Linked DNA regions of Homo sapiens: region 2 is linked to region 1. The links come from fine-mapping of genetic effects on gene expression. Tissue or cell type: tibial artery. Region 1 holds a variant in brackets; the other region holds the start of a gene. All regions are shown on one strand. Distances are from middle to middle.

What was found. PIP is the estimated chance that this variant, and not a neighbour inherited with it, causes the effect.
Region 2: GPC6 starts here. The variant in region 1 is fine-mapped to the expression of GPC6 in tibial artery (GTEx, PIP above 0.99). The same link has a PIP of 0.9 or more in left ventricle.

What each region holds. Positions count from the first base shown.
Region 1 is chr13:93,768,373-93,771,061 of GRCh38, forward strand. All of the region lies in intron 2 of GPC6 (glypican 6), which reads left to right. Among named protein-coding and RNA genes, the nearest start is that of GPC6-AS2, 89 kb to the right of the region's middle. The variant A/G (reference allele first, on the strand shown) is at 1,566.
Region 2 is chr13:93,225,596-93,228,284 of GRCh38, forward strand. GPC6 (glypican 6) reads left to right here and starts at 1,212. Exons shown (of 9, transcript NM_005708.5): 1 at 1,212-2,021. The coding sequence starts at 1,862. RefSeq lists an enhancer at 1,805-2,647.

The sequences.
Region 1 (2,689 bases):
ACGTACAGTTGTCATCATGATTTCTTATTCGATTACCAATCTTACCTCCCCAAGCCTGTAAACATAATTCAGTGACTGCATTTTTATTCACCACTGTATTCCAGGTCCTAAAACTAACCCTGACACATACCGGCCACTCGGTAAATATGGGTTGAATGAATGAATGAACAAATGGACAGAGAAATGAATGAGACACCTTCTCTGTCCTCATTTCAGTTTAAATTTAGGAACAAGGCATGAGTAAAAGTGTGAGGAGACAAAGCAGAGGAAGGCAAGTGCTGAAAGTTATGATCGCGTGCAGTGATGGCCATTAAGATGATCTTCGTACAGGAATTCATACAGGAATTTTTTTAAAGATAAATGCTGGCTTATGCAGGCTCTGAAGACTTATTTTTTATATCCATTCTTAATTAAACTAATGTTGAAAATAGTACACATTTATGGTAAAAAGCCTTCAGTCCTCTTTGGGGGTCATTTATTTGCTTGCTCTCTGGGAAGCTTCTTTCATAAAAGGATGCCCTTTTACTAGATCCCAACTGGGAGCTTTATGGGATTATTTTTTTCCTACTTAACAAAAGTGGGATTTAAACTCTAATTTCCAAAAACATAGTGGCTAGCTAAAATTGGTATTGATTTAATGTTCTGGGTCAATTTTAAGTGATAAATTAACATTAGCAAAAAAAGAAGTTTCTAAATTCTGTAAATCACATGGGATTTTTCATCGGCTCATTCCCTTACAATCTTTTTCTCAGGGATAAGGTTTTCTAAGTCAATATTTTCCCAAATGCATGCCCTTTTGTCTTCCATTAAATATGGTAGTCTTTGTTTCTTCAATGGCCATGTGAGAACAGAAGGAAAATTTCTTCTCAGAGAAGACAGAGCAAAGTAATATTCTTGCCAAAAGTTATCACAGTTTAATAGCAAGAAGGAATGTACACGTCTCTAAACAAAATGTGCAATGCTTTCTGATGCTGACACCATTTATTTAGTCTTATTAAATAGCTGGTAAAATGATCCAAGTTTCAGAGAAACACAAGCTGTGAGTGGCTGCTGCACGTGACAAAAAAAAAAAAAAAGACAGCCCCAAAAAGCAGCAGGGAGAAGATGTGCGCAGAGTCTGGGAGGATCACCTTTCTCCACAGCTTTCCCTTCCAAACCTCCAAACCCAGGCACTGCTTTCCTCTTGCACTCCTCTTCTCCTGATATCCATTCATTCACCTTATTTCTACACTCTTACCCCTTCCATATTTTTAATTAACTTTTCTCTTTGTGCTTGCACACTTGCTTTGCTTTGCTTTCAATCTATAGTTATTTTATGGGTGGCTTGGCACCTCAACCAGATGGGAATTAAGTGGAAGGCAGAAGTTGGCTTGCACACACAACCTCTAAATAAATGCAGGCCTGGGAAGGATGATTCATGCTTTACCTGTATTCTTTCAGCTGCAGTCAGTGTTTTTCCAATCTTGGTAGGCACCAGCATCACCTGGAAAATTGTTAAAGCAAAACATGCTTTGACTTGACTCCAGACATACTGGGGCTTAAATCTCTGTATTTATTTGCCAAGT[A/G]GTTCAAAATTTAGTAGTTGGGGGAATGGGATCACCAACCATTATGGTTTGCCAAGGAACGAAGGATTTCCTGAGCTGTGTGCTAAAGCCTGAATACTTCTGAGTAAATTGAGACATTTAGTTACCCTATTTAGGGTTGAAGATGAGGGCCAAAATAGTGCATGCATCTGTCTGCTTTCCATCTTTCCATCCTAATTATTCTAAAAAACCATACAACCCCCACTTTTATGGGTATAAAATAGTTATGTTACTTATCTATTTTTATTTTTGCATATTTTTTAGTTATTGCGTGGTTTATTACATATAATGAGAGCAACAATCTCATAACATTGGTTTTAGAATTAAATGAGATAAAATATGTAAAGCACTTAATGTAATGCCTGATACTAAGTGTTCAATGAATGTTACATATTATTTCTCTTTAGGTCCAAAGGTATTTATTTTCTTCTTGGCTTCCTGGAATACTAATCTTTGGTAAAGGAAGTTTCTCACTGGTCTCCTAAGCCGGCAGTGGTCTGAGGCATGCCACCATTTCTTTGAGCTGTGATGTGTTATATCATCTTCTTCCAAGACAGGCCCTCTTAGCTAGTGTGCTAACTGGACTTTCTCTCTCTGACTCAAAGGGGCTGTGCCTCAGAAGCTTTGTGGAGGTAGAAAGGCTTATCCACACTTCCCATGATAGGAGAGGGATTCTACCCACCTTCTTTCTGGATTCTTCTATGGACTGTAATGATTTCTTCCTCAGTAGTGTCTATTCCCAGACCCAGCAACTGCTTTTTGAAATTTGCTTGCAGACATCAACCCTGCAACTCTCTATCTAGTTCTCAGCACTTCAACTTAAGGCTAATATTAGACCAAGACCCACTTCCTCTAGAAATAAATCCTTTTCTCCCCCATACTTTCTTGGTCAAATAAGGTTACAGACTTATTTGGCACTTACTTAAGTAGTTTTTTTTTTCATCCTTAGGATGGTTCTCAATTTGTTGACTGATGAAATCATAAAACGTAACGTAACCCTCTAGGTAGCAGAGGATGTGCTTTGTAACATCATCCAGCACTCCTTGTTGCATTATCCTACAGTCTCAGTAATCTGCATTGTCTCACAGATCAAGCCATTTGCTCAT
Region 2 (2,689 bases), 540 kb before region 1:
AAGCGTTTGGAAAGGTTAAATGAGGTTGAATCTTGAGAGTCTTTTTGGTGGTTAGGAGAGGGGGAATTTATTAAAGAGAGGAAGACAATGTACCTAATATGTTGTGATGATAATGACAAACTCAAAGATTTAAACTTCATGAGTCATTCTGGTCATTCATATCATCATCAGGAAAACATCTTCATGTGTAGCTTCATAGGTGAGCTCCACAAAACTGTGCATTACCTTGTAGTAGTTTGTGAATAATGTGCTGACCTATGACACATAGCCACGTAAGTGAATAAACACTATTATTATTATTATTTTGTCTTGGTTTTCATTAAACTATCTTAGTAGTTTCAGGAGCTCTGGGTTTCAACACACACTTCTGCCAGCTGACTTTAGTGCGTCCATTAGCATAACAAAGTCAATTAGGCAAACCTGAATTTTCACTTTTATCCCGTTCACAGAACATCAGTGTAAATGGAGACAGGAAGAAGAAATTGGATTGATTCTCCACTTGAGAATTATGTTAACTTGGAAGAAAATGTTAAGTCTACTATGTGAGGGCATCTAGTGAGAGGGAAGGAATCACCTCCCTTCCCCCATTATGTCCCTTTATGCACCTCTGACCCTTGTGCTCTCCTTTTCTTGTTGCTTCTGTGGTCTGGTTGTTAGCTTTCCCGATCCTCCACACATTAGAAACCTAAGCATAATGATTTCTGATCGAAGGCTATGAGATATTTGAAATAAAAAAAGGGGAAATTGTTGAGTCTAGAACCAAACCTTTAAAAATTAAGAACTACCAGTCTGTAATGTGTGCCTTTAGAAAAAAACAAAGTCAAACAGAAATTAGGCAACTAGTTAGAGCCGTGATTGTGCTCTGCCACCCATGAACTCCCGTCTATGACTATTTCCACTCTGGCTTTGTGTTTCAGTAGGTCAGGGACACATATTAAGAGCAACAATTGGAACTGCGTTATCCTTTACCTCCATAAAAATACAGCTTAATAACATGTTAATGACTTAAAATTACCTTGTCTTTCTAGATTGTTTATTGATGTCATTTCAGATCGGTATAAAGGATGTGAAGTGAATAAGAAAATAGGTACGTTTCTTTTTCTTTTTTTCCCCTTTCTACCGACTAGGAAGAGATCCAGTCCAGGTTTTGCCTTTGACTCGGCCTGTGAATTTCGGCTGTGCAATGTGTAGCACGTTTCTTTCTCCCCCCTCCTTTCTCCTTCCCTCTTGCCTCCAGTGACTGTCTCCAGGATTTCTCTCTTCCTATTTCAGGAGGACTCTCACAGGCTCCCACAGCCTGTGTTAAGCTGAGGTTTCCCCTAGATCTCGTATATCCCCAACACATACCTCCACGCACACACATCCCCAAGAACCTCGAGCTCACACCAACAGACACACGCGCGCATACACACTCGCTCTCGCTTGTCCATCTCCCTCCCGGGGGAGCCGGCGCGCGCTCCCACCTTTGCCGCACACTCCGGCGAGCCGAGCCCGCAGCGCTCCAGGATTCTGCGGCTCGGAACTCGGATTGCAGCTCTGAACCCCCATGGTGGTTTTTTAAACACTTCTTTTCCTTCTCTTCCTCGTTTTGATTGCACCGTTTCCATCTGGGGGCTAGAGGAGCAAGGCAGCAGCCTTCCCAGCCAGCCCTTGTTGGCTTGCCATCGTCCATCTGGCTTATAAAAGTTTGCTGAGCGCAGTCCAGAGGGCTGCGCTGCTCGTCCCCTCGGCTGGCAGAAGGGGGTGACGCTGGGCAGCGGCGAGGAGCGCGCCGCTGCCTCTGGCGGGCTTTCGGCTTGAGGGGCAAGGTGAAGAGCGCACCGGCCGTGGGGTTTACCGAGCTGGATTTGTATGTTGCACCATGCCTTCTTGGATCGGGGCTGTGATTCTTCCCCTCTTGGGGCTGCTGCTCTCCCTCCCCGCCGGGGCGGATGTGAAGGCTCGGAGCTGCGGAGAGGTCCGCCAGGCGTACGGTGCCAAGGGATTCAGCCTGGCGGACATCCCCTACCAGGAGATCGCAGGTAAGCGCGGGCGCGCTGCAGGGGCAGGCTGCAGCCCTCGGCTGCCGCACGTCCCACTGGCCGCCCGGCGTCCCCTTCCTTCCCCCTGTTGCTGAGTTGGTGCTCACTTTCTGCCACCGCTATGGGACTCCGCGTCTCCGTGTTGGGCGGCGGATGCTCCTGCGGCTTCTTCGGCGGGGGAAGGTGTGCGTCTCCGCCGCCTCATTGTGTGCACACGCGGGAGCACCCTGGCTCCCGCCTCCCGCTGCTCTCGCGCCCTTCTACCCCTTAGTTGATGGCTCAGGCCCGGCTGGCCAGGGAGCCCGGGTCACTCCGGGGCGGCTGCAAGGCGCAGACGGAGAGCCGAGCCGGGCGCTCACTCCGCGTTCTGGTTCGGGCAAACTTGGAAGAACTGCGACCGCAGTTTGCCCAGCGCCACAGTCTGAGTGGCGCCTTCTCCACTCCCGCCCTTGCGCCGGCAGGGGCGGTGGAGAGACGCGGAGGGCTCCCCCAGCCCCTCTCTCCCCTATCCGTCCTTCGGGCGACAGAGCGCCCGGCGCTCGGGCCGGGGGCGGGCAAGGCTGGGAGGGACCCTCGCCGGGGACCTGGCCTCTGGACGCCGGCGTTTCAAGGCTGGTTTGGGGACTTCACGGGCTGCCTGTTTCAGATGTGGGGCGGGCTTTCCCGTT